3 separate regions of the Homo sapiens genome follow, and regions 1 and 2 are each linked to region 3. Evidence: fine-mapped expression QTL. A gene starts in region 3. Each other region holds a variant in brackets. All regions are shown on one strand. Distances are from middle to middle.

Region 1 (8,301 bases), 27 kb after region 3:
AGAGATAGATATCTAAAAAACAGAAGTTCTAAAAATGAAAAATTCACTTAAAGATTTTCAAAATATATTTGAAAGCTTTAATAATAGATTAGGTCAAGCAGAAGAAGGAATTTCAGAGCCTGAAGACTGCTCTTTCAAATTAACTCAGTCAAATAAAAATAAAGAAAAAAAGAATTTTTAAAAAATGAAAATTCAAGAAATATGGGATTATGTAAAGTGACCAAACCTATGACTTACAGGCATTCTTGGAAGAGAAGAAAAGATAAGCAACCTGGAAAGCATATTTAAAAGAATAATTCAGAAAAAATTATCTAATCTTACTAGAGAAGTAGACTTCCAGGTACAAGAAAGTCAGAAAATACCTTTAAGATACAAAATGCCACTGCACTCCAGCCTGGGCGACAGAGCAAGACTCTGTATCAAACAGAAACAAAAACAAAACAAAGATATGCTTGCAAAAATATGAAATGGCAGATGCACATGGTTATTTGCACCATTATTTTCAAAAGTCAAACTGGAGCACCATCTGAATATTCATCAAATTCAGGACTGATGAGGCAGAGCAACACAATGGATTATTATGCAGATATACAAGAGAATGCGGAAGCTCTGTAAAGTAGGGTGTGAACTCCAGGACACAGGGTGAAGTGAAGAAAGCAAGGTGCAGAAATTGCACACAGTATGCCATCTTTTGTACTGGGGAAAGGAATACAAAGCAGCGGGGAAAGGAATGTGTATGCATGTATATGTAAATACAGTCATTAAAACTGAAAACAAAGTGGCACAAATAAACCTAATTCCCTATCGAGTTGGCATTGCTGCCTTAACCACACAGAGGAAAGTAACTGACTTCAGAGCACAGTATCTTCACTGTATTTCTTCAGTATGATATAATCCAAAGACACAAATACTGCATAGACATCTCAATGTCACTTGAAGTGAAATAACATAAAAATGGGAACAGACTCCTGCTGCTGCTCCAGAAAGATGAACATGAGAAAGGGACCATTATCTCTAATGTTTTCTCATGTAGAAAATGCAGGGAATAGCTTAAATCGAAGTTCAACTTTGGGAGCTGATAATTGAGTGAAAGTCTTCTTCCTTGATTGCCCTGGGAAGAAATCTTCATTTTTGGTTTGCAAGACCATGAAAATGAGACAATAAATACAACAAATGAAATACTTTACACTCAAAAACTATTTTTAAAAAAACAGACAAAATATAGAAAATAAGTATAAGTAACATATTCAAAGAGACATTAAACGACATTTTATTAATTTTAAAAGCTATAGATTATAGAAATAAAAATTTTCCGTATGAAATTTCCCTCCTAAGGGTCGGCCCAAGTCCAGGACCTGTCTGGGAATTGTGGACATATCGGTAGGACACGGGCAAGGATTGCCATCTCGCTCAGCACCTGTTTCCTTGAACGATGAGAATAACCCATCTCTCCTGTTTTAAGTGTGATTTGTCATATACATCAATAGGCATCTTGGCTCAACATACGAAAGCCCCTTTCCACAGAGACAGCTGCCTCCAGCCTGAAGAAGTTGCCACAGGAGGTAGAAGGAGGTCCCTTGCCCATGCCTGGGAGACCCAGCCAGAGTGGACAGGGAGGCGGCCCGGGCCGGGGTGCCAGACTCAGCAAATAAACACAGCATGCCCAGGTAACTCTGAATTTCAGATAACCAACGAATAACTTTGTGTGATACTATATTTGTACTCAAAAGTAACTCGTTTATCTGAAATTCAAAGTTGACGGCGCATGTGGTACTGTATTGAATCTGGCAACGCTCCACCTTGGTTTTCCTACCCGGGTTTGTGGAAGGGGCTCCCCCTGCCCCGCAGGTGCCGCCCCGAGGAGGTGGAGGAGGAGGAGCCGGGCACTGACTGGGGACCCAGGTGAGTCTAGCAAATGACAAGGCCCAACGGTCAAAACCGCCTCAGTAATGCGCTCGTCCAAAGCACGCACTTAACGCTCAATCCTGGTGTCGCGTCCCGTTGCCAGGCAACGAAAGCAAGCGCTGCAAAGACGAAGGGGAGCGCCCAAGGATGAGGAACGTTCCAAGACACTGAGTGATTTGCTGAAAATCACACATCTAGTAAGTGGCAGAATCAGATAAGGAAACTGCAGCATAGACAGATTAAGTAATTTAGTTAAGGTCACACAAGTAGTATTTGGGGAAGCCAGGATTTGAGTCCAGGAAGTCAGGGTTCAATGCTCATGATTATCCTGATATAGAATAAAATATTTGTAGCTTAAAAGAATGAACCGGACATATCCTCTCTGATATTCTCTGTTGTTTCAAGTTCTCTTCATCAGGATATTCTGAAAAGGGGTTATTCACTCTTTTCCTCCATAAAGAATAGCGTAACTACGTGACTCATTAATAGCTCTGTCCAAATGAAAGAAAAATCTGACAGCGATTTGGAGCTTAATGTGAAATGGTGTACTCACAATAGATTCATATATTAGGATGGAAGGGTGTGCGAGATCATTTCTCCTGGATAGACAGACCCCCACTCCTGGGGGAGGGGTCACTCCTTGATTGAAAAAGAATGTTGCTAATTATACTCATGTTTGTCTTATGTTATTTACTAATTCTAGGATGCAAAGCCAGAATGCGAGCAGTGACCACCACACTTGACAAATCCGTTGTTGCACACATTTGTACTCTTCAATCAACAAAACCTGATGCAAAAAACAGAAAAGGGGGAGATGTACATGCATTTTCCCTCACTGCAAAAAAAACACAACTTGTTTAACTACAGGTGTGTTCCTGGTGGTCTTTGAATGAAGACATTGACAGAAAGTAACATAGCATGCTGGTTAAAGACTGTTTTTATTCGAATCCTGGCTTTGCCAATCAACAGCTGCATAAATTAAACTCTCGACCTCAGCTCCCTTATTTGTAAAACAAGAATAACAAAAAGACATTTTTATAAGGTTGGGTTGAAGGTTAAATGAAATAACAGAAGATTATCTCTTCACTAATTTTAGCTGTAGAAAACAGAAGCCAATCGAAAGAGCTCCCAGTCCAAAGCTGGAACAACTTGAACAACAAAATAAATAATGTAGCATTGGATTACAAACCAACCATAAAACAAATATCCATGAGTCTATACTGATGTCAATAAATGAATAAATGTGGGAAAATAGACAAATCTCCTTTCTCATACAGAAGGATTCCAAATAATTTGTGTAGATATTTCACTTTTAACTTGTTCTGTGGCTACGCATTAAGTCAGGATTTCCTTTCTTGCATAAGGAGGACAA[G/T]GAAGTTTATTGGACAGCATGTCAGTTCTCTTCACTCCATGCAACAACAAAATGAGGAAATTATGAAATGGTAAGCATCAACACAAATAGGCTGGCCATGGGGAAATAGGAGAGTTTTTTTTAAATGTTGTTTCGTTTTGTTGGACCAAATGTCTCTAGTTTCTTCAAGGCATAACTCATCCCCCAGTTTTTCCTTGACAATATGGAGCTCACCTCTGCACTCTCATAGCCAACTGAACTCATGGCAGGATGCCATGTTACTTGGGTTAATTTCTGGAAAGCTTCTACATACCTATTAGGGCCATCTGAAAACCTGCCAAGATCCCCCTTAGTTTGCAATAAATCCTGAAGAGAAAAGGGCACCTGGATCTTAACAGGGCCATATTCATCAGGCATCTGTTGTAGGGGCAGGAGTGAGACTGGCACCTGCCTAAAATGAGGATTTCTAGAGGTACCTAGAGGTATCTCTGGGGCTTGCTTCCCTATTTCCTTGGGATTGCCCCTTGTAACCTCTCCTGAGATGGCCACTAGGAGGGCTGAATCAATCCTACAATGTTGGCAAAGATCCAGGTTAACATGCAAGGCAAAGAAGGCCTGCACATAAGGGACCTAGGACCCTTTGCCCTCATGTTTACAGAAAAGCTTCCTTCCTGAGGCAAGGCTTCTCTTCTGTGCCTCAAGGTGCTTGGCACTAAGTTGGCAACCAAGTAAATTACAAGAACATTTTCACCACAAATTTACATACAGATACCAAGACACACTTTGCTACATCTGTGCTACTCTTACACTTTGGTGACCAAGCCAAATGCTCATTCCACCCAGTAATATCTCTGGCTTGCAACAACATCCTTTACATTTAACATCGTATATAAAAGAGATAGGAACCATGATAGCCATGAAAGAAAGAAAAGAACAATAGGAAAGGCTGAAGGTCCTAGTGCGGACACCCTAATGGGCAGTTGGGGACTGGAGTTAGTCCAGGAGCCTTTGAATAACACCAAAGTGTAGCCTTGGCCAGATACCCTCAGTTGCCCCAGGACCTCCTTCCAGTCCCATGAGATGGCTAGACCTCCATGAAGGGAAATTGGGTTAGAACAAAGCCAACATTCCCAACACCTGAGGTTGATGGGGGATTGACAGTGTCCCTCCCCAGCAAGCCTGTCCTTCATGTCTTAAGTTCTGCAGCTGCACTAGTTGCTTTTAACTGGTTGACAGAAGCCTGGTATTTTTCTTTCATTTTGACTATTGTGGAGTTTAGAGACTCCAAAAGAAAGGACAGAAAGTAGATCCACTTTTACTTACCCTTTTGGAGATCCCAGATGAGCCCCCAAAATGTTACAGTGTCACTGCCAGTGGTGCCAAATCCTGCCTATGCAGACAAGTGGAAGGTGAACAAGACAAAGAAGAGCTTTATTGAGTGTTACAGCTCAGAGAAAATCCACAGTGGGTTGCTCCTCTCTGTAGGCAGATCATCCAATCAAGTGTCCAGCTCTCAGCAGAGAGGAGGCTCTGAAGAGGGTAGCTCCTCTCTGCCCACTGGTTGCCCCATTGTCTGCTGTTCTTAGCAGAGCGAAGACCTTGGAGAGGGTGACTCCTCTCTGCAGGCAGTTCATTCAATGTCTCTGCAGGTCTCTGAAGCTCTCACAGAGAAGGTAGCTCCTCTTTGCAGCTGGTTGTCCAGTCCTCTCTCAGTCCTCTGTCCTCTGCCCTTCTCTGGCTGAGCCCAGGGCTTTTCTCTGCCCTCTACTTTACTCTGGCTGAGCCCTAGGCTTTTATGGACCTCAGATGGGAGGAAGTGCCTGCCGATTGGTCCATGACTGGCCATGGGTGGGCCTAGAGGAGATACCACATGTCCCCGCTCCAGTCTGTGGGACTGGCAGCTGGGCCCCCAGCCTTCAAGGCTTCCCTGGCCTGAAGGAGAGGCCTTACTGGGGACCGCCCCCTTCCACCCAGGAATCTGTGCACCTCCCCACTGCCATTTTTGGTCCCTGGCTCAGCTGCAACCCCACCCCGAGATTGAAGCAGGTGGTGGGAGAGAAGAGAGGCCAGGCAGTGGAAGCATATCCCCTCAAGCCTGCAGGGACTGGGGGGCCTTCCCAAGGCCTGAAGGTGAAGGCTGCAGAGATGCCTGGCCCTGTACCTGGGAGGGTGGCTGCAGAGGCATCCGGGGAGCTCCCACACTACCAACTCAGAAGGGGTGGGGGTCCCACTTGTCCCCAGCTCCTGCCTGTTCTGTGGATTAGGAGGCCCAGGTCTGTAGCCATGGGTGGGGCAGCTGCAGCTGCACCTGGGAGGGCAGATCCTGTCTGCTCCAGGCCCCCTCCAAGAGCACAGGGAGGCTCAGATCCACAGTGGCAGTTTGGACAGCTGCAGCCTTGCCCAGGAGGTGGGGCTCCTTCGTGCAGGAGACCTGGGTCTGCAGCCACCATTCTGGCAGCTGCAGCAACACCCAGGGAACTCTGGCCTCAACTCAGAAGGGGGCGCAGCTCCCACGGGCTCCTTGGAGTGTGCAGCCCCTCCTGCAGGCAGTGTGATGGCAGCAGCTACTGCCATCACTGCTAACCAAAAATCAGTCATGTGGCTCCAACTAACTAAGACTAAGAAGAAGACTAAGAAACAGTCCAGCTGCATGTCTAGGGAAAAATGAAAATGGAGTTTGGACACAGCATCCATCAATAGATCAAGAAAATGGGGTATATGGGCTGGCTCAGTGGCTCACACCTGTAATCTCAGCAGTTTGGGAGGCCAAGGTGGGAAAATTGCTTGAGGCCGGGAGTTTGAAACCAGCCTGGGCAACATAGCAAGGCCCTGTCTCTAAAAAATTAAAAAATTTGAAATTAGAAAAGTAAAAATGTGGTATACATATACAATGGAATATTATTAAGCCATGAAACAGAATAAAATCCTGCAATTGAAGCAACATGGATAGAACTGGAGGTCATTATGTTACATAAAATAAGCCAAGGACAGAAGGACAAATATCACATGTTGTTGCTCATATGTGGGAGCTAAAAAAGTGGTTCTGATGAAGATTGAGAGTAGAATGATGGTTACTGGAGGTTGGGAGGGGTAGGAAGGAGGATGAGATGAAGAGAGGCTAATTAATGGGTACAAATATATAGTTAGATAGAAATAAGATCTAGTGTTTGATAGATCAATCCGGTGACTATAGTTAACAATACTCTATTGTACATTTTAAAATAGCTGGCAGAGAATAATTCAAATGTTCCTAGCATAAAGAAAAAATAATTATTTAAGATGGTGATATCCCAATTACCCTGTTTTATCTTTACACATTATATGACTGTATCAAAATATCACATGTGGGCCGGGCATGTTGGCTCATGCCTGTAACCCAGCATTTTAGGAGGCTGAGGCAGGAGGATGGCTTGAGCCCAGGAGTTTCAGACTGACCTGGGCAATATAGCAAGACTCCGTCTCCACAAAAGACATGGTAGCATGTGCCTGCGGTCCTAGCTACTTGGGAGGCCAAGAAAGGAAGATCACTTGAGTCCAGGAGTTTGAGGCTGCAGTGAGCTATGATCTCACCACTGCATTTCAGCCTTGGCAACAGAGTGAGACCCTATCTCAAAAATAACAAAACAAAAACAACAAAAAAATCACATTTACCCTGAAAACATCTTCATCTATTATATATTAATTAAAAGTTAAAAAGAAGAAAGAAAGCAAAGGAGAACACATAGAGATATAGCGTCCCTATCACAATGAGAAAACTAGGAAATAAACATGCAACTTGGCCAGGGTCAGAGAGAAAATACCGTGGCAGAAATGGTACTAAAACTTAATGTGGTTTTTTTTCTTCTCCTGAAGCATTCAAGATCTGCCAGGAATCAATATATCAGCATAATGGAGTCAGATTGGCTCGGTCATTTTTCTGGCTTGCCCTTCCTGGGTTGGTGTGGCAATAAGGCAGTCTCTTTTGGGGGCATGAAAAGAGCTGGGAACTTGCTAGCTGTCCATATGAAGATTATACATTTTTTAACTGCTGTGACAGATATTGTTTATAAATTGTTCTTACGAAAATATTTATAGTGGGTGACCCGGGTGCAGTGGCTCACACCTGTAATCCTAACACTTCAGGGAGGCTGAAGTGGGCAGATCACCTGAGGTAAGGAGTTAGAGACCAGCCTGGCTAACATGGTGAAACCCCGTCTCTACTAAAAATATAAAAAGTAGCTGGGTGAGGTGGCGCATGCATGTAATCCCAGCTACTCAGGAGGCTGAGGCAGGAGAGTTACTTGCAGTGAGGTTGCAGTGAGCCAAGAACACACCACTGCACTCCATCCTGGGTGACAGAGCAAGACTCCATCTGAAAAATGTATGTATATATATATATATATATATGTGTGTGTGTGTGTGTGTGTGTGTGTGTGTGTGTGTGTATACGTGATATACACGTGTATATATATACATATATATGTGAAAAAATGTATATATGAAAAAATCCCCTCAAAGTTAGAAGGCAGTCTCTCACATGAGCTGATATGTTTCCTTACATTATACAAGAACAATGTAAAGCATTTTTTTAAAAAAATTATCATATGTTTTGGTTTCGAAGAAGCTGAGAGCTAAATTTTATATAAATCTGTACCTTGGCCAGGCACGGTGGCTCACACCTGTAATCCTAGCACTTTGGGATGCCAAGGTGGGTGGATCACCTGAGGTCAGGAGTTCAAGACCAGCCTGGCCAACATGGCAAAACCCCTCTCTACTAAAAATACAAAAATGAGCCAGGTGTGGTAGCACATGTCTGTAATCCCAGCTACTCAGGAGGCTGAGGAAGGAGAATCGCTTGAACCCAGAAGGTGGAGGTTGCAGTGGGCCGAGATCGTGCCACTACACTCCAGCCTGCGCGATGCGAGCAAGACTCCATCTCAATAAAAAAAAAAGAAAAATCTGTAGTTTTGTCATATATGTGAATATGTTCCTTCACACTCCATACTCCAATTACTTATCATCTGTCATTTTATTTGTACATTAACATTTTTTGCTAATTTGAATAA
Region 2 (8,301 bases), 22 kb before region 3:
TTAAAACATATGAATTGATGGTAGTTTTAAAGATTGTTGATGATGACGGGGAGAAGGAGGTGGAAGGAAATAAAAATGACGTTGGTGAAGAGGAAGGACATAGAGTCAAATAAGTTGGATAACAGAAACTTCTTTATAAAATGTATATTGGACCAAGAGGGGAGATAAAATATATAAAAGAGAAATAAGATGAAAAGAAAGAGAGTAATATGAGAAGATTCTTTTAAAGAAAAAAGAGAAAAGGAAGATGTAGAAAAAGCATTTAGGCTTATGCTGTATCAGAGGCTCTAACTGTCCCATTTTATGTTTGACTTAAGTGACACCAGTGGATTTGTATTGTGATAATATTAAATAATATTTTTGATAGATATATAGAACAAGTGTGGAAATGTTTAAATTAAAATTAAAGTTTTACTTTATCTCATCACCCTACCATGGCAAACTGTAATCACAGTGTGATCCTATTGAATTACCTTTTTAGGTAACAATATTTCTTAGAGATTTTTTGCATCAATATATACTGATTACATGCTTATTTAATTACTATACAGAATATCATTGTGTGAAGGGACCATAATTTAGAATTTCCACTATTGATAATATACATGTAAATATTAGATTACAGTATGTGTTTTCTATTTTGAGAAGTACTGCAATGAATATCTTTTAACATAAACAAGCTCAATTATTTCTATAGAATAGACACCTGTAATTGAAATTATTGTGGCAAATGAAATGCATTTAAAAATGGATAAATGCCACTAAATTGATCCTTCTAAAAGGCATTCCTAATTTTCCAGTCCAGGCAGCAGCATTTATTTTCTCACTAAGAGTGCTTATTTCCCCTCAGCCTTGCCAACACTGCATGTACTTAATTTACTTAAAAAATCTGATGTGTGAAAAGTTATACCACAATCTTTTCGTTTACAGTTCCCTGATTGGGCATATTTTTGTTTGATTAGTGGCTATTTATAACTTCAGCAAATTAAAATTTCAGCAAATTTCCTGCTCAGAGTTTTGCTCAGTTTTCTAGTTGATTTTGAAATACTTTATCCAGTGCGGATATTAATATTATGAGAAGACTTTCCTTTCATACGTTCCTTGACTCTAACATTGCTTGTGTTATATAGAAGTTTTAATTTTTATGTACTCAAATTATCTATTCTAATGGCTCTTGGGTTTTGTATCTTACTTATAAAATTCTTTTCATTTCAAAATTACCAAGAAATTTTACATTTTTCTTTCTTATTTATTTATTCATCAATAAGCTCTAAAATTGATTTATTTGGAGAAAATATTTATGCTCTTCTCTAGATCTGAAATATTTGGTTTGCTGTCACTTTTAGATTGCTCCTTGGTAGAATTAGCTTTCCTAGCTTGTAGCTGAGAGGAGGTTAATCTCTATTTTTCTTTTGGTCCTAGTGGAAGGAGGCATGCATCCCCAGCTGATACCTTCGGTTATTGCTGTAGTTTTCATCTTACTTCTCAGTGTCTGTTTTATTGCAAGTTGTTTGGGTAAGTTATTAGCCAAAGTAGAACTCTTCTTGAATTATTATTTCCAAACAACTTTTCTGAAGTTGCTCTAAGCCTTTTGGTATCTTGATTTTTCCTAGCATAACCTATCTATAATATCTTCAGGGTCTTGCACTGAATATTCAGAGCTACATTCTTGACCTTCTGTCTTTCAATGGTGGTACCTTGTGATAGAGATTGATTGATGGAATTTAGACCATTTTCTGTACATGTAAAAGTTGGTTACTATAGCAAATTTCCCCCCATTTTGGACTGGGATCACAAAGGGATACATCTTATGAGAAAAGAGTAAGCAGAAGAAAAATAACTTTCAGATAGACTGGCTTTGAAAAGAACAAGGTTGGAAGAATTGTTCTCTCTCTCTCTTTCCCTCTCTTTCTTTCTTTTTTCCTTTCTTTCAACCTCTTTATTGATGTACGATTGACATATGAAAACCTGTACATATTTAATGTATACATCTCAATTTGGGGGATTAGTATACACCCTTGAAACCATCACCACCATTAAAAAAATTCTTTCTGATATCAAACATAAAATAATTATAATTAAAGTAATATGATATAGGTGCAAGACAAATAGACTAGAGGAAAATAAAGGAGAGCTTGGTTACAGATCCTGCATGTATATAAGACTCTTTATATAAAACAAAAGAAGATATCTCAGACATATGGGAAAAGGACAATTTTGTTCAATTAATGTTGCAGAGCCCATTGATTATTTATATTTAAAAGATGAAATTGGTCTCCTGCATCACACTGTATACAAAAACAAATCTAGAGCAGATTATTGTCCAAAATGTGAAAAGTAAATCAATAAAGTTTTAAGAAGATAAATGGAGAATATCCTCATGACCTGGAGGTAGAGAACGATTTCTTAAACAAGCCACAAAATGCACTAGAAAATAAACATTGACAAATTATACTACATTAAAATGAGTTACTGTACAACAAAACATACCAGTAACAGTGAAAATAAAAAGCCATAGGAGAAGATACTTGTAATGCATATAATTAATAAATAATTCACATGTAGATTATATACAAATTTTTTCAAACCAGTAGGAAAAATACTTACAATAAAAAAACTGGGCAAAGTCTTAAATAGGTACTAAAACAAAGAGAAAAATGAAATGTCTAATAAACACACAAAAGTGCCAGCCTCATTAATTAATTATCAGGGAAATGCAAATGCAACTCACAGTGAGACACCTTTGCAAACATAACAGGATGGCAACAATAAAAAGTCTGGCACTACTAAATATTGATGATGCCATGGAGCAAATGGACCTCTAGTGAATTGCTTCTGGTGGAGTTTAAGCATTACAGTCACTCTGGAAAAGTTTACCGCTATCATAGTTTACAATATTCGTACGCTATTGCCTGCAGTTCCACTCCTACGTATGTGCCCTACAGAAACGCATGCTTATGTGCTCCAAATGCATGGTTGAAAATGCTCAGAAGAGCATAGTTCACAGTAGCCAAACACTGGAAACAAGGCACACATCTAATAGGAGTAGAATAGATAAATATATTTTGTTTCAGGAAGACAATAGTTCACTTTACAGCAATGACAATGGATGAATTATAGCGGGCACGTAACAAAATAGACAAATTTCAGAAACAATTCTCAACAAAAGACAGAATCAGAATACATACTGTGTGATTGCCGTTCAAAAACAGGCAAATCTGATCTATAGGGACATGTTAGTAAGTGACAAAATTGTGAAGCAAAGCACAGCGGTTACTTTAAAAGCCAAGAGTGGTTACCTGTAAAGGAGAGTGGTTACCTATAAAGGCGAGGGAGTGAGCTGCCTTTGAGATGTGAAGGCTATCTGGGGTTTTGGCAATATTCTGTTTCTTGAGCTGAGTAGTTGTTACCTGGAGTGTTCACCTTACAATAATTTGCTAAACTGTTTTCCACTTTTTTACATTTGTTTATTTTTTATTATTTATTTATATTTATTTTATTATACTTTAAGTTTTAGGGTACATGTGCACAACGTGCAGGTTAGTTACATATGCATACATGTGCCATGTTGGTGTGCTGCACCCAGTAACTCATCAGTTAACATTAGGCATATCTCCAAATGCTATCCCTCCCCCCTCCCCCCACCCCACAACAGGCCCCGGTGTGTGCTGTCCAGGAAGGGTACATTTGTTTATATATTTCAAGGTGAAAGTATTTTAGAAATGCATAAGGTTCATACAACCCAGCGCGCACCAAAAACCCCTATTCTAACACAAATTTTGATAGAAAAACATGCTTGCAAGCATGTGCACATAAAAGTTTGCAAAACTTCTCCCGTAAAGAACAAAACGGGCCGGACGCGGTGGCTCACGCCTGTAATCCCAGCACTTTGGGAGGCCGAGGCAGGCGGATCTCGAGGTCAGGAGATCAAGACCATCCTGGCTAACAAGGTGAAACCCCGTCTCTACTAAAAACAGAAAAAATTAGCCGGACGTGGTGGCGGGCGCCTGTAGTCCCAGCTACTCGGGAGGCTGAGGCAGGAGAATGATGTGAACCCGGGAGGCGGAGCTTGCAGTGAGCCGAAATCGCGCCACTGCACTCCAGCCTGGGTGACAGAGCGAGACTCCGTCTCAGAAAAAAAAAGGACAATATGATAATAAAAATATTAATTTTCAACAATTGCTTTCAACCAATTCACCTGGAGCTGAAACAAACAAGCTGCATAGAAAGAAAAGAGAATATGAGGGCCTTAATTATTAGGATAAGAGAAAATTTAGGAAGGTCAGCCCCTATTTCCCTAATTAGTGGTTATATAGAAAAAGAAACCTAACTTGCTTTTATCCTTGACAGTGACTCATCACAACTTTTCACGCTGTAAGAGAGGCACAGGAGTGCACAAGTTAGAGCACCATGCAAAGCTCAAATGCATCAAAGAGAAATCAGAACTGAAAAGTGCTGAAGGTACAGAGTGTAAGATAATTTCTTTTTTAATTTCCATTTTCGTTCAAATTCATAGTCTGACTGAAGGAATGTCAGTAGTGAACCAGGAAAGATTAAAATAGCATAAG[A/G]TGAGAATCTGGCATCGGAGTAAATAAGAATACCTTAAGATAGAATTATTTCTCATTACTGTAATCCAGTTAATAACCGGAGAATATAGCTTTACAGATGGATGGGTTATTTTTGACATCCAAAACATAACATTAATCAGATTCAATTTTCCCTTGATTCAGACATATGATAAAGACAGTTTCCTCCTAGAATATACAGCTTTGCTGACATGTCTTTATTTCTTTTATTATTGTGGAATTTGTCATCTCATTTGGGAGAATGGGGCAGTGCTTAAGTTTTAGTAGGTTCTTTACCCACTTTAGGTAAAATATCCTGCAAAAGCTTCGTAATGGAAACACTTTAAATGTGCAAGTCAACAGATGTAGGAACAATGAATAACAGTCATGCCTTCTAAGGCAATATTTTGTGATTTTCTCGTAGTCATTATGTGGTGTCCAGTACTTATGTTTAGAAGATATTTAGGAATGTAATTTTCAGGATCTTTTGGTAGGAGAACAGAATAATTTTGGTGATCTTGATATTATTCTCACAAATATTAATTGGATATAGGTAGTAGAATAGTTATGCAATCTGTTACAGATGAAATGCTCTTTTGTTACCAATTTCCGTTTTAATTTTCACTTGAGGGAGCACCTGGAACTGTTGTCCTATTGACTGGAGAGCCTTCCAGTCCAACTGCTATTTTCCTCTTACTGACAACAAGACGTGGGCTGAGAGTGAAAGGAACTGTTCAGGGATGGGGGCCCATCTGATGACCATCAGCACGGAAGCTGAGCAGGTGTGTTGGGAGGATCACATCAGTTTCTCTGCTGCTTTGAATCTCTTTCCAGAAAAAGAGGAATTTCTCTGTCCTGTTATGCCTCTGTCTGTTTTCATCTGCTCCATCTGCCTGGAAAGCCCTTTCTTCCTCTTCAACTTTTTGTCATATGGCCAACTTCTTTTGGTCTTTCTATATTTGATTCATATGTTATTTCCTCCAGAAAGCTACCCTAACTACCTTCCTCATTCTACCCCTCCCTGTTCTAAGTGGGAAGTACTTCTGTAGGACTTTGTGCACAACGAGATCATGGCATTTACTTCACTCCACTATAATTGTCTGTTCACTGCTCCATCTCTTCCAGTGACTTTTACTACGTGGAGGGCTGGATCCATGCTCTACTCACCTTTGCGCTTCCAATGTCCCGTGCAGTGTGAGGCACACTGGATAGGTCTTGATAAATGTTTGGTTAGTAGGTGAATAAATGAATGGTTAATCAGGACTGAACTAGCTTCTCAGGATAAAGTACAGGAAAACTAATTCAGATGTATGGATCTAATGATAAGTAAAGAAATCTTAGGGTAAATTCTTTAAAGGCTAAAATTTATTTCCTCATGTAATATGTTTCCATTTATGTACCATGACTCAGATTCTAACTTTTTCTTGGTTAATAGTTTCCTCAAGGATTTTGTCTCCATAGGTTTACAATGTATAGGTTCGGTAATTCTGAATAAAATGGAATTTAATGAAATATGCACGCAATTAAAGAAGATATTAAAAACAAAACCTCCTAAAAAATCTAATCTTATTAAGCATTGTGCTAAAAGGGTTGCAAGTCTGACCTCACTTAATCTTCCTAGTAACTCTATAAAGTAGTGGAGTTGTCCCTTTTGAAGACAAGAGCACTGGGGGTTTGGTAAGATTGAAGCACTTACTAACATTACAGGCAGGATTTGAAAACAGATCTATCTGATGCCAGAGCTTTTGTGCTTAACCAGTAATCTAGTTGACATATTTCCTCTTTTTCCAACATCATAGCCATCACCTGATTCATGCAACTATATTAAAATTTACATTTTTATGCAGAACTTTATTATTCAGTTTCTGGATAGACGGCTTTCCTATTTCCTTGGACTTAGAGATGAGAATGCCAAAGGTCAGTGGCGTTGGGTGGACCAGACGCCATTTAACCCACGCAGAGTGTAAGTATATTGAGTGGGCTAAGGGGATTTATAAGCAAAGGTTAGAAGATGGTAGCAAGAAACATTCATTTTGAAGTGGAGTACATTGATATAAAAATGTTAAGAGAGACCACTGTAGGTTGAGTAATCTCCATATGCTATGTCCCAGTTCCAGAATGGTCCTATAATTTGCATGCAATTTTCAGTATTCTTATTTGCACAATGTCAATAATGAAAGAATGAATAGCATAGAAGTGATATAAAATTTGTTTTAGGCTTGACATTTAAATAAACAATATAAGCGATAAAAATTTTCTTTGAAAGAGAATCAAAATCTTGTCATTTTCTTTCTTGAAGCCAGTATCGTTTAGTAAAAATATAATGCAAAGCCACATGTGCAATTTAAAATTTTTTGTTAGTTATATTAAGAAAGTAAAAAGAAGCAAGTGAAATGTATTTTAATAACGTATTAATAATGTATTTAACCCAATATATCCAAATCTTATCATTTCAACATGTGATCATTATAAAATTATTACTGAGGTCTTTGACATTCTTCATTGGCACTAAGTCTTCAAAATACAGCACTTAAGACTTAAAGCACATTTCAATTCAGAGAAGCCACATTTCAAGTGCTCAGTAGCTACATGTGTCTAGTGAGTATAGTATTAGTGCAGTTCTAAACTGTTCACTAGGGACATTTCTCTGAATTGTCTCCTAATATATCTATATCTAATCTACACCTATAATCTACATTGTCTATATATACCTATAAATCTCTATCTATGTTGTTGTTCTTTCAGATTCTGGCATAAGAATGAACCCGACAACTCTCAGGGAGAAAACTGTGTTGTTCTTGTTTATAACCAAGATAAATGGGCCTGGAATGATGTTCCTTGTAACTTTGAAGCAAGTAGGATTTGTAAAATACCTGGAACAACATTGAACTAGAAACTCAGAAAGTGGTCCTTGTGATGGAAAGAGAAAAGAAAAACCAATTAGAATAAGGCAGAATGTACGTGCGTCATTGGAACACAGAAAACATGCTGGTTCATACAGCGTTTTTAGTCATAATGGTCTTTTTTATTTTGTTTGATTCATTCGAGACAACATGTGTGTATGTGTGTGTGTGTGTGTGTAGATAATGTGGTTTTTGTATGGTGTTTGATGGAAGGAATAATCTTTCTTTGCTTTCTTAGTAGTATTTCAAGGTGTTTACTTTTCAATTGGTGTGCACTGAATGCATGTATGGAAGAATAGCGTGAATAATGCAATCTCTTTGTCATTTTTCCCCTTCTCAGACTCTTAGCTCTTAAAATTCAAAGATGGGATATTCTAACTGGTAGTGGTGCATCATTTTTAACCCAAATATTGCAAGCACTTTAAAGATTTGAAACCACATTTTTATTGTTTGATGTTTCATTTTCAGACTTTTTAATGTCAGTCATTACAATTACATTGCATGAGGAAAATTTTTCCAGAACAACAGTGTGGAATAGTTCTGAATTATGCTGTTCTACAGATAGAAAAAAAGTCCAAATGCCTTTAAAAATTTACTTCTTACTCCACCCAACACGTTTTTGCAAAGCAAGAAGTCTTTGTAAGACACCTTAAACAAAGTCCTTCAATTCTACAGCAGAGGAAATAAAATCCCCCAGAAGCCAAAGGGCTCACCTTCACATTGTTAGTTCATGACAGACCCAGGTGTGCTTCATTAGAGATAACATACATTCCCTTTGGTATCACAGGAAGTTACTGGGGATTACTCGACCTCATTACTTAGCTAACGACTGG
Region 3 (8,301 bases):
CCAGGAAAGGAGAGAAGTGGGTGCTTGTACTTCTCCTTCATCTTTTCTACCTTAGCTCTTCTCTTTCCTGCATTTAATACCACCACCAATAATGGACCTGATCTATTGCAGGTAACAGAAGGAGGTTTCAAGAACTCCTCTCAATAGGAGGGTAATTACCTCAGAGACTTTGTCAAAGGTGTGCCGTCCACCCATTGCCACTGACCCTCGACAACCTGGTCTGACAGTCCAATAAAAAACTCTCTCATTTTAGGTTTCTTGTAGGAAAGGAATTCCTATGGAAGATACAAAATAAAAGGAGATCAGTTATTTTAGTTTTGAATAAACGTTGCTAGTAATTATTATTCAAAGAGGTAAGAATCTGGATGAGATCCTAGCACTTTGGGAGGCCGAGGCGGGTGGATCACCTGAGGTCAGGAGTTCAAGACCAGCTTGACCAACATGGCGAAACCCTGTCTCTACTAAAAGTATAAAAAAATTTGCCAGGCATGGTGGCGGGTGCCTGTAGTCCCAGCTACTTGGGAGGCTGAGGCAGGAGAATCGCTTGAACCTGGGAGGCAGAGGTTGCAGTGAGCCGAGATTGCGCCACTGCACTCCAGCCTGGGCAACACAGCAAGACTCCATCTCAAAAAGTAAAAAAGAATCTGGATGAGAAATAACAGATAAGTGAAACTGTAAGATCATGAGGATTATCTACTGATTTTTTTTTGTGGTAAAATATACATAACATAAAATTAAACTGAAAAAATAACCTTCAACAGAAAAGGAGATCCTCAATAATTCTTTCAAAGTTTATCTACTATTATTGGTGGCCAAATTTATTGAATATATCTAGCGCAAAATATTATTAATCACAGCTTAAAGAAAACGGACAATATTTGCTTCTCTTCTTTCATATAATATGTTCATAAACATAACGATTCGTCTAAAATTAACACTTCCAACCCTCTTTTTCCCCTTGCCTAACTAAAGGAACTCCACATGGAAATTCCCTTTTTCTTAGGTTCTTCTAGGAAGGAAAATAAATTAAGGTAGGCAGTGACTTTACCGAAATAGTAAGAACAGCATGCATTTTAGTACATTCATTAACAATAGTCATTGGGGGTCAAGCACTGTGCATATGTATGAAAAGAGAGGTGGACCATGTCGGGAATGTTACATTGGCATCGGAGGACTCCAGCTACCTGCTCCTCCTGTGAGTTGATAACCACCAGGTGAGCCCCCATGGCTGAGCAGTTCTTTAAACTTAACGCCCAGGAAATGGTGTCAGTAGAAAAGAAGTAGCAGCTGGATTGAAAATATTCCCAGTTCAATGGACAACAATTCTTGACTGAACCTAGGATGAGAGATGTTTCAGTGAGTGTCCCAGGTGAACCGAATAAGAAAACCCAAAGCTTCATCTGGCCCCATGGAGTCCTCATTTAAGTCAGAAGCCTTGGAATCACTTGTTCATACCCTACATCTTAGTATCTAAGACTTTAGATAATTCCAATGTCAAGAAACATAAACAGAATGTTTTTGGTCTTTTGAACGTAATTCTCATTCTCTGGATGTCAGTGCCAGGAAATGCAACTATATATGCAAACTATCTTAGTTATGCTATTGATATAGAACCTTATTATCTGTTCTTAGACTACTAATGTCAGAGAAATTTATGCATTTTATTTGGGTGACCCCCAAAGAGCCATCTCTTATGTTACCTAAACAATGTATCCTCAATCAAATCTCCATACTGTAGTATATAGATGGGTTAGATGTGGGCGGCAAGCCACCCAGGCGCTGAGGCAAGAGACAGAGGACACGAGCTGTTCCAGTATAATAAAATATAAAACAAGAATAGTTATACCAGATATAGATCTTAGATATGATTATATATGAATATCATTAATCATTAGTTTGTAGCAATTACTTTTTATTCCAATATTATAATAATCCTCGCTCTATAATCATAGCCAAGGAAAAACCAGGCCGTACAGAGCTACGAGCTGAGGGGACATAGTGAGGTGTGACCAGAAGACAAGAGTGCGAGCCTTCCGTTATGCCCGGACAGGGCCACCAGAGGGCTCCTTGGTCTAGCGGTGACGCCAGCGTCTGGGAAGACGCCCGTGGCCAGGCAGACAGACTGTGGTCTAGCGGTAGCGTTAAGTGTCAAGGGAAAACACCCGCTACTTAGCAGACAGGAAAAGGGAGTCTTCCTTTCCCTGGGGGAGTTTAGAGAAGACTCTGCTCCTCCACCTCTTGTGGAGGGCCTGACATTAGTCAGGCTTGCCCGCAGTTATCCGGAGGCCTAACCGTCTCCCTGTGATGCTGTGCTTCAGTGGTCACACTCCTAGTCTGCCTTCATGTTCCATCCTGTACACCTGGCTCTGCCTTCTAGATAGCAGTAGTAAATTAGCGAAAGTACTAATAGTCCCTGATATGCAGAAATAATAGCGTAAGCTGTCTTTCTCTCTGTCTCCTCTCCCTCTCTGCCTCGGCTGCCAGGCAGGGAAGGTCCCCCTGTCCAGTGGACACGTGACCCACATGACCTTACCTATCATTGGAGATGACTCACACTCTCTACCCTGCCCCTTTCACCTTGTATCCAATAAATAACAGCGCAGCCAGACATTCGGAGCCACTACCGGTCTCCGCGCATTGGTGGTAGTGGTCCCTTGGGCCCAGCTGCCTTTTCTTTTATCTCTTTGTCTTGTGTCTTTATTTCTACATGCTCTCGTCTCTGGACACAGGGAGAGACCCACCAACCCTGTGGGGCTGGTCCCTACAGTTAGATTTCTTAGAATTACAGAACTTTTGCCTTTGAGGTCTATTATAAATAATTCTTCTAACTTCTCTCAATTTAATGGTGAGAAAATTATAGCTCAGAGAAGGAAGTCACTTTTTTAGTGTCATGTAGCATTTTGCTAGGACTTGCAACAGGATGACATAGAAGAGCATAGAGAGTATATTTGTGAGATATTTATAAATTCTCTACTCCATACGTTTTTTCTCCATCTCATTTTGGAAGTAGGTGAATGAAAAAAAAGGTACACTCCTGGGAATAATACCTTCCACTTCCAGATTTACTGTTCAGACATACCCCTCAAATTTATTCTAAAAGTTTACTATAATGTCCCCAAGACTTTCTGCCCCAATGCTAATTGCATCACCAAATTTCTAGGATTTTACATTTTGCTTTTGAAAAATAAGACCTAATCCAGCTATATCTCACCTGTCCCAAAGTCAATCTAGAAGCCAGAAAATGTTGCTTTGTAAATTTTGATGTTCACCTTTGGGACTATTATACCTGATCCATAATTGTAGCAGGAGAGCTCTGTGAAATTCTCAGGTAGCTGAAACTTTTTCTCATCACAGGTTTGAAAGATGCGAAATGTCACTGTAAAAGAAAGGGCATAATGTTTGTTAGTCTTATTTCGGTTAAAAATGTCAGTTCCCTCAGTTTTGTATTTATAACAAAAGTGCCAATAATTATCATGTTTTTTCTTACAATCTGCTTTTTCTTACGACCCAGAGAAAATAGATATGTTTGCACTACCTCTTATGCCAAGTCCAACTCTCTCTACCCTTCCTTCCAAAAGTAATTAGTCATATCTCTGGTGCCGACCAGTAGTTCAAGCTCTAAGGCAGACTCTCCTAGAGAAGGTTACACTAATGATAGAGGCTGAAAGAGGAGGATTCAGGACTGCCAAGGAAGTGAAAAATGTCTATCATGAAAAGTAAGTCACAGGTGATTAAAATTCAGAAACAGTTCCCTGCTTGTTGAGGTTTCTGGTTTGAGAAATAACCTAGAGATTAATAGGGAAAAAAAAAAGGGTGAAATAGAAAGACCCTTTGAGGGCAAAGAGAGTCTACAGGCAGCATGGAAGAGTTTTCTCCTAATATGCACCAGGAAGAATTAAATTGAATTTGACCTTCAGAACCCACCAACACATCTGGTGATGAAACAGGCACTGAGAAATAGGATGGGGATCCCAGCAACAGTCCATAAGAACATTTGGGAAGAGAAGCATCCTCTCTCTGTAGAAAGAAAGACACAAACATGATCAATCTTCCCTAAGCAAGGTACAAAAGAGATAGAAGAGATTCTTATTCATCCTTACTTATTTCCTTCTACTTCCATTGTTTGTACTGAGTAATTCCCAAATTTCAGCATGCTTCAGAATCACTTGGAGGGTTTATGGAAACACAGATTGCTGACCCTTACCCCCAGAGTTAGCAACTCAGTAGAGTTTGTATGGAACCAACAAGTTCCCAGGGGCTACTGCTGCTGCTGGTCTGAGGACCACACGTTTAGCACCCCTGGAGTAAGACTCTGACTCATGAACTCAGATATACAATTTTTCCTTTCTAAGTCTCTCAGTTAAATTTTTTTCAGTATTTTCTAAGGCCCCCCTTCTTTCTTTTTCTTTCTTTTCCCTTTTCTCGTCTTTGCTTTTCTTGTCCTTCTCCTGATCTTTTTTTTTTTTCTGTGTCTCACTTTTCAAGCGCTTTGTAAATTAGGTAAAATGTTAACAGTCATCTAATAGTTCCTCTCTTCCTCCCATTAAACATTTTACAGACAAAGAGAGTTCCAGAGAAGTGAAGTGACTTGCCAAAAGGGACACAATGTATTGCAGAAAGGGTGGAAACTGATAGCTCTCCCTTAGCTAGAGGCCAGCAGGCTTTCTGGTATAAGAAATAGTCTTTAAATCTCTCTCTCTCTCTTCCTCTGTCCCCCCACTTTTTTTTTTAACTTCAGTGAATACTTTTCTATTGTCCTGTCTTTCACCATATTTATCACTTGTTCCAAAAAGAGATCTATGGAAGGAAAGGAAGAGTTGCAGATTTTACCTGTGCATTGTGTTTCAGATGATTTAGATGAATTCATTTTTTCTCTCTCTTTGGTTTTTTGTTTCTCTCTCTCTCTTTTTCTCTCCCTCCCTCTCTTTCTTTCTCCTCAGGAGTGTTTTGTTGGTAAGATTCAGGGAGAATGAATCTTGAAAGATAAACACTTTGTCTTTTAGGAAGTTCAGCTCCGATAGATGTAGAATATTAACTTGTTCTGTGGCTACGCATTAAGTCAGGATTTCCTTTCTTGCATAAGGAGGACAAGGAAGTTTATTGGACAGCATGTCAGTTCTCTTCACTCCATGTAACAACAAAATGAGGAAATTATGAAATGGTAAGCATCAACACAAATAGGCTAGCCATGGGGAAACAGGAGAGTTTTTTTTTTAAATGTTGTTTCGTTTCGTTGGACCAAATGTCTCTAGTTTCTTCAAGGCATAACTCATCCCCCAGTTTTTCCTTGACAATATGGAGCTCACCTCTGCACTCTGAATTTCACTTTGGATCTGTACCATCCACACATTTGGTAACTGAAAAGAAGACTTAGACAACATAGCACAAAGCTGGGCATATAGTGTATGTATTTAGGACATGGCAACCTGAATTTTTTCATCTTTTTTTTTTTTTTTTTTTTTGAGACAGAGTCTCGCTCTGTCGTCCAGGCTGGAGTGCAGTGGCATGATCTCCGCTCACTGCAAGCTCCGCCTCCCGGGTTCAAGCCATTCTCCTGCCTCAGCCTCCCGAGTAGCTGGGACTACAGGCGCTCGCCACCACGCCTGGCTAATTTTTTGTATTTTTAGCAGAGACGGGGTTTCACTGTGGTCGTCAGGATGGTTTCAATTTCCTGACCTCGTGATCCGCCCGCCTCAGCCTCCCAAAGTCCTGAGATTACAGGCGTGAGCCACCGCGCCCGTCCTCTTTTTCATCTTTTATGGTTTTTCTTTCTTCTTCATTTGCAGCTCTTGAATATTCTAATGTTGTGGATTTATGTCCCTCTTATCTTATGCTGACTACTAGGCTGCTACTACTAGGCTGACTACTAGAGTCCCCCTCAGCAGGACAGCCTCATGTGATTAGACCACTTTGAAACTCAGCTTAGTTTTTCACAACATAACGCAGCTTCTGAAGTCTCAGAGACCCAGCAGGCAGTTTAATTCTCCTGTTCTCAATTATTTGGGGATTTTAGTTCTATGTTACAGCCTACAGTAGGAGAAATGTATTTGAAGGTCAGAAAAAGCAATTTCAATTAGATATTAGAATTTAATGGTTCTCTGGGCCGGGAGCAGTGGCTCATGCCTGTAATTCCAACACTTTGGGAGGCCAAGGTGGGTGGATCATTTGAGGTCAGGAGTTTGAGACCAGCCTGGCCAACATGGTGAAACCCCACCTCTACTAAAAATACAAAAATTAGCCAAGTGTGGTGGCACGCATCTGTAATTCCAGATACTTGAGAGGCTGAGACAGGAGAATAGCTTGATCCTGGGAGGCAGAGGTTGCAGTGAGCCAAAATTGCACCACTGCACTCCAGCCTGGGCGATAGAGTGAGACTCTGTCTCAAAAAAAAAAAAAAAAAAGAATTAATGCTTCTCTGGAAGAATAGTTAGATATGTGCCTTCTCCTTACTTAAAGATACTTAAGAATAAGATCACACTGGTCTCAGTTTATTTAAGTTCACGAGTCAGGAGGCATAAGTATGATGTACATGACTTGGTAAATCCCCACATCCAGTGACTCACGAATTTTCCATGTGTGAGAAAATATTCTTGTTCTCAAAGGGACTTTTTATTATTTCAAGGTACTGGTCAATTTTCTCTGCATTCTCTGTTTTATAGTAATACAATTTTAAAAATATCTTTAAATTATATATGTGTATATTATAGAATATACCCATATTTAATATGTGTATTCTCAGCAAATAGCTTTTGATCAGTAAAAAAAGAGAAACTATCTAGTGGATGAGCTATATGAATTATAAAATGATGAACATAATTACCACAGTCCATCTTTTATTAATTACAATCAACCAGCAACCATCAATATTACTAAACAATTGTATGTTAATTTTTATCAATATACAATTAAACAGAAATCAATAAATTAATATTTTTTCCAGCCAAAATGTTTTTATATCTTTTGTTTCATTGATTTTCCCCAAATTATACGAGTAATATGTTTTATGATTAATACTATGAAAAGCATGTGACAAGTAAAAGCCTTCTTAACTATCCTTAGTGCATTCTTCTAAAGTTGACCATGCTTAATGATTTCTTTTTTGGGGGGGGGGATTAATTTTTATTTATTTTTATTTATCTTTTATTACACTTTAAGCTTTAGGGTACGTGTGCACAACGTGCAGGTTTGTTACATATGCATACATGTGCCATGCTGGTGTGCTGCACCCATTAACTCGTCATTTAGCATTAGGTATATCTCCTAATGCTATCCCTCCCCCCTCCCCCCACCCCACAACAGTCCCCAGAGTGTGATGTTCCCCTTCCTGGGTCCAAGTGTTCTCATTGTTCAATTCCCACCTATGAGTGAGAACATGCGGTGTTTGGTTTTTTGTTCTTGCGATAGTTTGCTGAGAATGATGGTTTCCAGCTTCATCCATGTGCCTACAAAGGACATGAACTCATCATTTTTTATGGCTGCATAGTATTCCATGGTGTATATGTGCCACATTTTCTTAATCCAGTCTATCATTGATGGACATTTGGGTTGGTTCCAAGTCTTTGCTATTGTGAATAGTGCCACAATAAACATACGTGTGCATGTGTCTTTATAGCAGCATGATTTATAATCCTTTGGGTATATACCCAGTAATGGGGTGGCTGGGTCAAATTGTATTTCTAGTTCTAGATCCCTGAGGAATCTCCACACTGACTTCCACAATGGTTGAACTAGTTTACGTCCCACCAACAGTGTAAAAGCATTCCTATTTCTCCACATCCTCTCCAGCACCTGTTGTTCAGCAATAGATTCTTTGATTTCCCTTTTTAAATATCATCCAGGAACTTATCGTCTAAGTCCCTTTTCTAAACTATATTGCCTGTCAATATTTCAGGCAACTGAAAAAGAATCAGTAAAAGCTGTAAACATCTATGCCATACGAGTATTGTTAGTATCTACTTTTCTTTGATGCCAAGAGAAACATCACTCAATTTTAGCCTTGGGGCAGATTTATTTTTTGTCTTTTCATCTAACATGCAATCACTAACTGATCCCAGGGCTGCTGCTTCCCAGGTTGACGGCCAGCCCTTTACCCTTGAACTGCCATCTATCTGTAAGCCACACTGCTGCCTTGACAGCTGACCAGAGAGAGGGGCCTATTCAGCTATAGGTTTAGCCAACTCCTCAGGGGAACCAAATTTATGGTGACCTGTCAGCCACCTGACTGTGCATGCATTGGGTAACCCCATTTCACATTCTTGAGTATCTCCTTTCTATTCAAGGAGGGAATTCTGTGCATTTCAT

Evidence for each region.
Region 1: its variant is fine-mapped to the expression of CLEC4E in whole blood (TOPMed, PIP 0.99).
Region 2: its variant is fine-mapped to the expression of CLEC4E in whole blood (TOPMed, PIP above 0.99).

Annotation. Positions count from the first base shown.
Region 1 is chr12:8,562,915-8,571,215 of GRCh38, forward strand. It overlaps LOC124902872 (a long non-coding RNA gene), which reads right to left and starts at 5,022. Exons shown (of 3, transcript XR_007063203.1): 1 at 4,580-5,022; 2 at 1,814-3,311. LOC105369645 (a long non-coding RNA gene) reads left to right here and starts at 1,577. Exons shown (of 4, transcript XR_007063201.1): 1 at 1,577-1,667; 2 at 1,756-1,902; 3 at 2,009-2,102; 4 at 2,609-3,159. RefSeq lists enhancers at 468-1,100, 1,735-2,366. The variant G/T (reference allele first, on the strand shown) is at 3,278.
Region 2 is chr12:8,513,814-8,522,114 of GRCh38, forward strand. It overlaps CLEC4D (C-type lectin domain family 4 member D), which reads left to right. Exons shown (of 6, transcript NM_080387.5): 2 at 1,423-1,515; 3 at 4,351-4,461; 4 at 5,196-5,347; 5 at 6,413-6,528; 6 at 7,311-8,301. The coding sequence ends at 7,458. Among named protein-coding and RNA genes, the nearest start is that of CLEC4D, 4.5 kb to the left of the region's middle. The variant A/G (reference allele first, on the strand shown) is at 4,569.
Region 3 is chr12:8,535,931-8,544,231 of GRCh38, forward strand. It overlaps CLEC4E (C-type lectin domain family 4 member E), which reads right to left and starts at 4,975. Exons shown (of 6, transcript NM_014358.4): 1 at 4,831-4,975; 2 at 3,925-4,017; 3 at 3,287-3,376; 4 at 1,185-1,336; 5 at 160-275. The coding sequence starts at 4,867.